2 separate regions of the Homo sapiens genome follow, and region 2 is linked to region 1. The links come from fine-mapping of genetic effects on gene expression. A gene starts in region 1. The other region holds a variant in brackets. All regions are shown on one strand. Distances are between the middles of the regions.

The links. PIP is the estimated chance that this variant, and not a neighbour inherited with it, causes the effect. A credible set is the group of variants that fine-mapping cannot tell apart.
Region 2: its variant is the best candidate, but not a certain one, in a credible set for the expression of GPN3 in monocytes after LPS (Fairfax 2014, PIP 0.78).

The regions. Positions count from the first base shown.
Region 1 is chr12:110,465,993-110,471,365 of GRCh38, reverse strand. It overlaps GPN3 (GPN-loop GTPase 3), which reads left to right and starts at 3,109. Exons shown (of 8, transcript NM_016301.4): 1 at 3,109-3,210. The coding sequence starts at 3,163. FAM216A (family with sequence similarity 216 member A) reads right to left here and starts at 2,521. Exons shown (of 7, transcript NM_013300.3): 1 at 2,348-2,521. The coding sequence starts at 2,490. It overlaps LOC124903016 (a long non-coding RNA gene), which reads left to right. Exons shown (of 3, transcript XR_007063459.1): 2 at 550-727; 3 at 915-1,077. RefSeq lists enhancers at 1,778-1,947, 2,868-2,997 and a silencer at 2,148-2,457.
Region 2 is chr12:110,416,786-110,422,158 of GRCh38, reverse strand. No RefSeq gene overlaps it. Among named protein-coding and RNA genes, the nearest start is that of ANAPC7, 16 kb to the right of the region's middle. The variant T/C (reference allele first, on the strand shown) is at 2,270.

The DNA.
Region 1 (5,373 bases):
CTGTAATCCAGCACTCTGGGAGGCCGAGGCGGGTGGATCACGAGGTCAGGAAATCGAGACCATCCTGGCTAACATGGTGAAACCCCGTTCTCTACTAAAAATGCAAAAACTTAGCCAGGCGTAGTGGCACGTGCCTGTAGTCCCAGCTACTCAGGAGGCAGGAGAATCGCTTGAACCTGGGAGGCGGAGGTTGCAGTGAGCCAAGATCACACCACTGCACTCCAGCCTGGGTGACAGAGCGAGACTCCATCTCAAAAAAAAAGAAGAAAAAAAGTAAGGAGTTCCGGAGTTCCCATTAGTTAATAATGGGATTTTTGGCAGATCACTTCCCCTTTCAGATTAGTAAATATGACCGGAATTGATGATTTTTAAGACCCCTGCCAGTGCCAACATTGTATCATGTAGCATAATAAACCTGATTCTAGTTTGAAAATTTTATTTTGTATTTCTGGGAATATAAGCTTTTCATAAATTAGTCTTGGTTTGTGTTTTTTAATGGGGTTCCTTAAACCAAACTGAAGGGCATACTGTCTTTTTTTTTAATTGTAGTTTTAAGAGTTTGGATAAACTAAAGGAAGCATGGAGATGAACGACAGGCGGAGATAAAAGGAAAGGACAAACAACCTCTTTGTGCCTGTTTTGTCATCCATAAAGTGGGGATCATAATAGAACCTTCCAGGATTACAGGCTCATGCCCATCTCTACTAAAAATACAAAAATTAGCCAGGTACGTGGTGGCGCACACCTGTAGTCCCAGCTACTTGGGAGGCTGAGGCAGGAGAATTGCTTGAACACAGGAGGCGGAGGTTGCAGTTAGCTGAGATCGTGACACTGCACTCCAGCCTGGGTGACAGAGGGAGACTCTGTCTCAATAAAAAAAAAAAAAAAAATTCACGTATCTCCTGATACACCAGGATCCTGCAGTCGGCCAAGGACTGTGAAGAACAGAAAAGAAACCCAAGACTCCATCCCATCTTTAAGAAGTCTTCAGTAGCACCAGAGACAAAAAGGACGGCCATGCGGGCGGATCACGAGGTCAGGAGATCGAGACCATCCTGGCTAACACGGTGAAGCCCCGTCTCTACTAAAAATACAAAAAAGTAGCCGGGCGTGGTGGCAGGCGCTTGTAATCCCAGCTACTCCAGAGGCTGAGGGAGGAGAATGGCGTGAACCCGGGAGGCGGAGCTTGCAGTGAGCTGAGATGGCACCACTGCACTCCAGCCTGGGCAACAGAACGAGACTCTGTCTCAAAAAAAAAAAAACAAAAAGGATGGCCATGGGTGCAACAGGGGCCCTGACTGCGGGTTGTACTGAACGGCAAACATATCGCAGTTCTTGCTTTTAGGGAATAAAGTAGGGAGAGGAAGAGGAGGTAGAGTCTCCAGCAGTGACTTCAACAGCTCGCTGTCTTCACTATCTAGGAAATAGGTGTAAAAACCTGCTCAAAACGAAATAGATTTGTGAAAAAAGGAACTTCAGTGTGAAGAAAATGTCAAGATCAAGGCACCTCGGATATTCAGTCATTGGTCTCATTGGCGATTAGAAATCCTCGTTTGAGGTCGGGCGCAATGGTTCACCCCGTAATCCCAGCAATTTGGGAGGCCGAGGCGGGCGGCTCACTTGAGGTCAGGGGTTCGACACAAGCCTAGCCAACATGGTGAAACCACCTCTCTACTAAAAATACAAAAATTAGCCGGGCGTGGTGGCAGGCGCCTGTAATCCCAGCTACTCGGGAGGCTGAGGCAGGAGAATCACTTGAACCTGGGAGGCTGAGGTTGCAGTGAGCTGAGATCGCACCACCGCATTCCAGCCTAGGCAACAGAGCGAGACTGTCTCGCTCTCAAAAAACAAGAAAGAAAAGAAAAAAAAAGAAAAAGAAATCCCCGTTTGACAGGAAGGTGGCTCATGTCACTAGAGGGAAGGAACTGGTTTATGGGCCTGGATGCCCCCAGTTGAACCGGGGGACATCTTCCTCCTCTGTCCCTCCCGCCTCGCCTTTCGGTGGACACACAGTCCTGTGCCAGACAGCAAACGTCCCAGCAGGGCTCGCAGCGCCCCCTCGGGGCAGAGAGATGCACGCGGGCGACTGTCGCAGTCACCTCGTGGCCACTGCACCAAACGCTCCTCCGAAGCTTCCCTCAGAGACCCTCCCTCAACCGCGAGGCAGTCCTCCCCTCTGCCCTCTGTCCACAACAAAACTGCTCCCCGCCTCTCACTTGAGGGCACCGGGGCCAGCCCCCGAGACGAGAGGTCGGCCGCAGCCCTCCTCCACGGGGCTCACGACCCGGGGGCCTCACGACCCGGGGGCCCCATGCTGCCACCCTTACCCCGGGGCCCCCAACCTCACCCGCCGCCGCCACCCTCGGTCCCGGCCACAGCGGGCGGCTCTGCAGAAGAGCTACGCTCCGTCCAGTCGGACCCCGGACCCTGGCCGGGCATCTCCGCGGCGCCGAGACCGCGAGCCGTGTGCGGGAGCAGCTGTCCCAGCATCCCTCCCCCGACAGCACGCGTGCGTCAGGCTGCTGGTATTCCGGAGAGGCGGCTCGGATGCTGGCTTCTCGCCCCTCCGAAGCCGTTCGGACACTGCCCGAACAGCTTCGGGAGAGCGGGGCGGGCAGATCCGCGACCCCGGAGTTACGGTGGGGGAGGGGCAGGAGCGCTGCGGTCGCTGAGCGTTTGCACGTTTGCACCTCTCTGTGGAAGCAGTGCGTCACAGGAGGGAAATATACATGCTCCCCAAAACAAGAGGTGCCTTCCACTTCAGTATTCCAGATCCTCAGCACATTTGCAAATCGCGAGGGTCACCATACAGGTCAAACGTCTGCACGCAAACCACGGACCGAAGCACGTGGCGCAAGGATGCGGAGCTTTATCTGTTGTCCGTTATTACTCAGGTATCCAAGCTTAGACAGCATCCCAACGGCCGATTTCCATCAACTACTTTTGCGCACGCGCAAATCCTCTCCCTCGCCCCTCCCCTTTTTTCTCAGGACGCGTTTCTCACGGGATTTGGCCCGCGGGCTGCCCCGTAGTAGGAGGTGTGGTAGAACTGGAGGCGTAGAAAGAATGTGGATTGCGATTGGTTCGCACTTCACTTTCCCGGAGCTCAGTGGGCGTCGCGCGAAGGCTAAGGGAGTGTGGCGGGCGGCTCCGGGAGCCAACATGCCTCGGTATGCGCAGCTGGTCATGGGCCCCGCGGGCAGCGGGAAGGTGAGGATCTGCGGGGACAAGGAGAGAAAAGTAGGAGTTCGTGGAAGGCGGGAGATTGGGTCCTGAGGGAGTGAGCCGGCGGGTGTGTGTACTGGGAACCCTGAGACCCCACGCAACTCATTTCTGCTGTCTGGCTTCACGTTCTTTTTTGTTGTTGTTTTGAAAGGGAAATAATGGTAGTTGTTAATATTTATTGTATACTTAAGCCCCAGGCAGCAGATGAAACGCCTCGCTTATTTCTACAACAACCCTGTGAGAGAGATCTCATTTTTCTCATTTTACAGAAAACGAGATACAGAAAGGTTAATTAAGTTCTTTGCCCCGCAAAAAAATATAAATCCAGTTTTGTCTCAACTCCAGAATCCGGCCCTGTCTCGCTCCCAGGAGGGTAAAGTGGGGTCTCATTAATTACTGTTTCTCAGAACTTGGGACATGGACTTTTGGTATTTAAGGTGCTTTTAGGTGGTAGGTGGTACATGGACCCCACATTAAGGAGCATCAGATAATGTGTTAGGGAAATTGTTCCCTTTTCATTTCTCTTTCAGTTCTCAACTTCGCATTTAGGAGAAGTTGTGCTCGGTGCTAGTGTGTATCTTCAGCACTTCTTTAATCCCCAGGTCTTTTCAGAGAGCAGTTCTTAGTCTCAGAGCTTTTAATAGGCACCTGTATTTAGCTAAAAATAGAACATTTAAAGATTTTATATAATTTTATGTCTAATTTCACGTTATGTCAAATATAAGTGGTTTTCAGTTTACAGTAGGGATAAAATTTTTTCTTGTAAACAAATATTAAGGGAATGTTAGGAACATTCAAATACAGTGAGAATGGTGAAGATATGGATCAAATAACATATGTGTGGGAAACATAGCCAGGCGTGGTGGCTCACGTCTGTAATCCTATCACTTTGGGAGATGGAGGTGGACGGATCGCCTGAGCCCAGGAGTTTGGGACCAGCCTTGGCAACACGGCGAAACTCTGTCTCTACAAAAAAATGCAAAAATTAGCCAGGCCTGGTGGCAGGTACCTCTAGTCCCAGCTTCTCGGGAAGCTGAAGTGGGAGGATTACCTGAACCCAGGAGGTTGAGGCTGTGGTGAGTGGTGATCGTGCCACTGCACTCCAGCCTGGGTGACAGAGGTACTGTCGCAAAAAAAAAAAAGAAGAAGTGTGGAAACACTAGAGTCTGTGGAGGTGTTGTGTGGCCTCAGTCTTTAACAAACACATTGTTCTAAGCTGTTGACTTATTCTGGGTAAAAACATGTACATGTAACTAAGATACCTATGGCCTTTAACTTACCCAGAGTCTGTAGTCTTTTGGGGAAGACAAATAGATGACCTGTCAATTAAGATACAGTGTGATGTGGCCAGGTGTGGTGGCTTAAGCCTGTAATCCTCGCACTTTGGGAGGCTGAGGCCAGCAGATCACTTGAGCCCAGGAGTTCAGGGTCAGCCTGGGCACCATGGTGAAGCCCTGTCTCTACCAAAAATACAAAAATTAGCTGGGCATGGTGGCGAGAGCCTATAGTCCCACCTACTCGGGGGGCTAAGGCTGGAGAATCGCTTGAGCCTGGGTCAAAGCTGCAGTGAGCTATGATGGTGCCACTGCACTCCAGCCTGGGTGACAGTGAGACCCTTTGCAAAAAAAAAAAAGATACAGTGTGTGATGTATGGAGAGGGCATTCCAGACAGAGACAACAGTATGTGTAAAGGCACTGAGAGGACAGCATGATGGATGTTTTTTCTATAGTCTATTTTAATTTTTGGGCTGATTGTATTAAACAAGTATCTTTATAAGCTTTTGATGCTTACTATCAGAAACATTCCTTGAGTACGTTCTTTATCCCAGGCACTGTTTTGGGCCCTGGGGGTTGTATGGGGAAAAAAACATGCACACACAAAATCCGTGCCCTTGTGGAGCTTATCTTTAAACATAATAAGTCAATTAGAAACAATTATCAAGTATTTATTATGTACTAGGTATTGCGCTAGTCCCTGTGCTTGGGAAACTGAATAAGACACATCTCTGCCTTTAAACAGAGTATGACACAGACAAGTAGCCTAGAGACTTTTTTTTTTTTTTGAGCCAGGAGTCTTGTTCTGTCATCCAGGCTAGAGTGCAGTGGTGTGATCTCAGCTCACTGCGACCTCTGCCTCCCGGGTTCAAG
Region 2 (5,373 bases), 49 kb after region 1:
CACATAAAATGAAGATAACCTCTAACACGCCCTCCAGCTCCAAAATTATCCTTTCTGAATATGATTCCATGAGGAAGAGGAGGCCTAGTCTCCTTGGATATATCTCCTGTGTGTCCCAAGTTGTTTTAACACCATACATGTCCTTTGAATATTATTAAAATCAGTATGATCTGGCCAAGCATGGTGGGTCATGTGTGTAATCCCAGCACTTTGGGAGGCCAAGGCGGGTGGATCACTTTGCTGCGGGATAATTAAGGAATTAGAGAGACTGAGGGGTTGAGGAGGAATTATTTAATTATTAAGCTGCACCAACCCAGTCGGATTAACATCCAAAGGACTGGGCCCTGAACAAAGAGTCAAGTTACCTTTTAAGCATTTCGTGGGGCAGGGGCAGATCTGTGCAGGGGGAAGCATATTACAGAAGCAAGAAACAAAGACAGTTATTTAATTGAGACATGCATTACATTATTTCATACTTTTTAAGGAACAACATGTTTTACAACTTGAGATTATCTGTCTAGTGACCTTGTAGCTGCACAGCTAGAGAAACAGGGTCTTCACAATGCTTGGGAAAGGGAGAGATAAGGCTCACTAGCCACAGAAAGACAGGCAGTTAATTTTAAAGGACTCCAGCTCTTTCTCTTCCTCAAGGGGAATTGGGTTTTCTTATATACAACTGAGTTTTTGTTTAAACATTTTTTGATTTATTTTAATTCCTGTTTCAGCTTGAGCTCAGTTCAAGACCAGCCTGGCAACATGGCAAAACCCCTGTCTCTACCAAAAAAAATTAGCCAGGCGTGGTGGCAGGTATCTGTACTCCCAGCTTCTTGGAAGGCTGAGGTGGGATTATCTCTTGAGCCCGAAAGGTAGAGGTTGCAGTGAGCTGTGATTGCACCACTGCACTCCAGCCTGGGTGATAGAGCCAGACCTTGTCTCAAAACAAAACAAAACAAAATCAGTATGATCTGAATTACATCATATTAATGGGACCTAACCGTAGAACCTACCCTCTCTTTGATAAATTGATTTTCAAGATGAATATTTTGAAATTTCCAGATTAGCTGGGCATGGTACCACACACCTGTAGTCCCAAGTACTCAGGAGGCAGAGGTGGAAGGATTGCTTGAGCCCAGGAGGTCAAGGCTGCAGTGAGCTATGATTTCGCCACTGCACTCCAGCCTGGGTGACAGAGAGAGACACAACTCTAAATAAATAAATAAAAATTGGGCACAGTGGCTCACACCTGTAATCCAGCACTTTGTGAGGCCAAGGCAGGAGGACAGCTTGAGCCCAGGAGTTTAAGACCAGCCTGGGCAACATAGCAAGACCCCATCTCCACACACACTCAATTTTTTAAATTAGCTTGGTGTGGTGGTGCATGCCTATAGTCCCAGCTACTTGGGAGGCTGAGGTGGAGGGACCACTTAAGCCTGGGAAGTTGAGGCTACAGTGAGGTATGATTGTGCCACTGCACTCAAGCCTGGGCAACAGAGGGAGATCCTGTCTCAAAAAAAATAAAAAATAAAAAATAAATAAATAAATAAATAAATAAAATTTCCAGAGGAGGTAGGTCCCCCTTTGCCTCTAATTTTTTCTCTATAAATATTTTTGCTTCATCCATTCTTTGTGTGAGTTTATCAGTTTCACAGGTGTGTTTTAGCTCTATTTCTTTGCAGGAATTATCAACTTTTCTTTTTTTTTTTTTTTTTTTTGAGACTGAGTCTCACTCTGCCACCCAGGCTGGAGTGCAGTGGTGCGATCTCAGCTCATTGCAACCTCTGCCTCCCGGGTTCAAGCGATTCTTCTGCTTCAGCCTCCCGAGTAGCTGGGACTACAGGCATGCGCCACCACACCCAACTAATTTTTGTAATTTTAGTAGAGATGGAGTTTCACCATATTGGCCAGGCTGGTCTTGAACTCCTGACCTAGTGATCCACCCACCTTGGCCTCCCAAAGTGCTGGGATTACAGACCTGAGCCACTGTGCCCAGTCTCAACCTTTCTTCTACCAGTTAGCCAGTGATACATTCTCCTTCATTCCCATCAGTATATAAAAATGATATTTCTCCAATCAGAAAACAAAAATCCTCTCTTTCACCCACCTGCTGCCAACCATGTCCTCCTTTGCTTTACAACAGGGCTTCTCCACATTGACACTTTGACATTTTGGACTGGCTACTTAAATATATGAATTAAAAAAATTTTTTTTTTCTTTTTGACAGAATCTCCCTCTGTCACCCTGGCTGGAGTGCCATGGTGTAATCTAGATT[T/C]ACCGAAACCTCCACCTCCGGGTTCAAGTGATTCTCCTGCCTCAGCTTCCCAAGTAGCTGGGATTATAGGTGTGAGCCACCATGCCTGGCATGAATGTAAATTTCTCCTCCACTTTGCCGTGGGGGGCTGTCCTATACATTAAAGAATGTTTAGCAGCATCCCTAGTATCTATCTACCCGATGCCAGAAGCAACACCCACCCCACCTCAGATGTCTCCAGACATTGCCCAATGTCCCCTAGGAATACAGTCACCACCCTGCCTCCACCCCAGTTGAGAACCACTTCTCTGCAGCAAAACTCCTCAAAATAATTGGCCGGGCACAGTGGCTCATGCCTGTAATCCCAGCACTTTGGGAGGCCGAGGCAGGCGGATCACCAGGTCAAGAGTTCGAGACCAGCCTGGCCAGCATGGTGAAACCCCGTCTCTACTAAAAATACAAAAATTAGCCAGCCGGGCAGGTGGCACATGCCTGTAATCCCAGCTACTTGGGAGGCTGAGGCAGGAGAATCACTTGAACCCAGGAGGTGGAGGTTGCAGTGAGCCAAGGTCGTGCCACTGCACTCCAGCCTGGGCGAAAGGGCGAGATCTCGTCTCAAAAAAAAAAAAAAGAATTATTGGCTGGGCAAGGTGGCTCATGCCTGTAATCCCAGCACTGTGGGAGGCCAAGGCAGGCAGATTACCTGAGGTCAAGTGTTCAATACTAGCCTGGCCAACATGGTAAAACCCCTTCTCTACTAAAATACACAAAAATTAGCAGGAGCATGGTGGAGCATGCCTGTAATCCAGCTACTGGGGAGGCTGAGGCAGGAGAATCACTTGAACTTGGGAGGCAGAGGTTGCAGTGAGCCGAGATCATGCCGTTGAACTCTAGCATGGGCAACAGAGCAAGACTCCATCTCAAAATAAAAGAATTATCTATATGCATTGTCTCACATTTGTCTCCTTCTCTTTACCAAAGCGCCACTGAAAATGTTCTTGTTGACATCATCAGTGACTTTCATGTTGCTAAATGCTATGGCTATTTCTCCATAAGATGCAAAAAATTAGCCAGGCATGGTGGTGGGCGCCTGTAGTCCCAGCTACTCAGGAGGCTGAGGCAGGAGAATGGCATGAACCCGGGAGGCGGAGCTTGCAGTGAGATGAGATCACACCACTGCACTCCAGCCTGGGCAACAGAGCGAGACTCCGTCTCAAAAAAAAAAAAAAAAGAAAAGAAAAGAAAAAAGTATAATAGCAAACATTTATATAGTGCTTCTGGAACAGGAATTAAAAGAAATTAAAGAATGTGTAAGCAAAAACTCAGTTGTATGTAAGAAAACCCAATTCCCCCTGAGGAAGAGAAAAAGGTGGAGTCCTTTAAAAATTAACTGCCTGTTTTTCTGTCTGTGGCTAGTGAGCCTTATCTCTCCCTTTCCCAGGCATTGTGAAGACTCTGTTTCTCTAGCTGTGTGGCTGCAAGGTAAGTAGATAGATAAACTCAAGTCGTAAAACATGTTTTTCCTTGAAAAGTAAGAAATGATGTAATGCGGCCGGGCGCGGTGGCTCACGCCTGTAATCCCAGCACTTTGGGAGGCCGAGGCGGGCGGATCACAAGGTCAGGAGATCGAGACCATCCCGGCTAAAACGGTGAAACCCCGTCTCTACTAAAAATACAAAAAATTAGCCGGGCGTAGTGGCGGGCGCCTGTAGTCCCAGCTACTTGGGAGGCTGAGGCAGGAGAATGGCGTGAACCCGGAGGCGGAGCTTGCAGTGAGCCGAGATCCCGCCACTGCACTCCAGCCTGGGCGACAGAGCGAGACTCCGTCTCAAAAAAAAAAAAAAAAGAAATGATGTAATGCATGTCTCAACTGAATAACTGTCTTTGTTTCTCACTTCTGTAATATGCTTCCCCCTGCACAGATCTCCCCCTGCCCCATGAAATGCTTAAAAGGTAACTTGACTCTTTGTTAGGGGCTCAGTCCTTTGGATGTTAATCCGACTGGGTTGGTGCACCTAAATAATTAAATAGTAAGTATCCTCCTCAACCCGTCGGTCTGATTCCTAAATTAGCCCGCTACACTGCAAGGGACCCAGAGATCACCTCCAGCCCCTCTTTTAACTCTTAGTGGGTTTTTGAGCTGGATCGAAAACGAACTGACACCAGGCAGATTAACAAGAGAAAAGTGTACAAACTTTGTTTCACGTGTACGGGGGGGTCTACACAAAAAAAAGAGTGAAGTCTGAAGAAGTGGCCAAATAAGATGCTTTATATGTTTTAGACAAAGAGCAATATACTTGAGAAGAAATGACAGGACAAAGAAAATCTGGCTGGGGCAGTAAATTTTTCAGGGGAGTCACTAGGAGATAAATGGGGGGAGTGCCAAACTGGTGAAAGTAAAGGTAACTTTGTTAAGTATGTTTATGGAGGTCCATTGTAGCCTTTAGTTTTAAGTCTCTGGAGATAAGGGCTATTTTCTTGCTCTTATATGGAGAGGGTACCTTTTCCAGATAAATCCTCATCACTTGTTACATGCAGGAAAACAGTGGTCAGCTCATTGTTTCTGAAACTTTACTTCCTCTATTTTTTTTTTCTTTGGTGACAGAATCTCACTCTGTTACCCAGACTGGAGTGCAGTGACACAATCTCAGCTCACTGCAACCTCCACCTCCCAGGTTCAAGTGATTCTCATGCCTCGGTCTCCTGAGTAGCATGCGTCACCACGCCCAGCTAATTTTTGTATTTTTAGTAGAGAGAGGGTTTTACCATGTTGGCCAGGCTGGTCTTGAACTCCTGGGCTCAAGTGATCAGCCTGCTTCGGCTTCCCAAAGTGCTTGAATTACAGGCGTGAGCCACCGTGCCCAGCCTCTCTAATGCTTTTTAACTCAATAATTGATATATCGATTTGGCATATTTGGAGTTTTGGGATTTTTGTTTTATTTATTTATTTATTTTTGAGACGGGGTCTCTCTTTGTCACCCAGGCTGGAGTGCAGTGGTGGGATCATAGCTCACTGCAGCCTCCACTTCCTGGGCTCAAGTGATTCCCCTGCCTCAGTCTCCCTGGTAGCTGGGACTATAGATGAGCACCACCATGTCCGGCTAATTTTTGTGTTTTTTTGTACA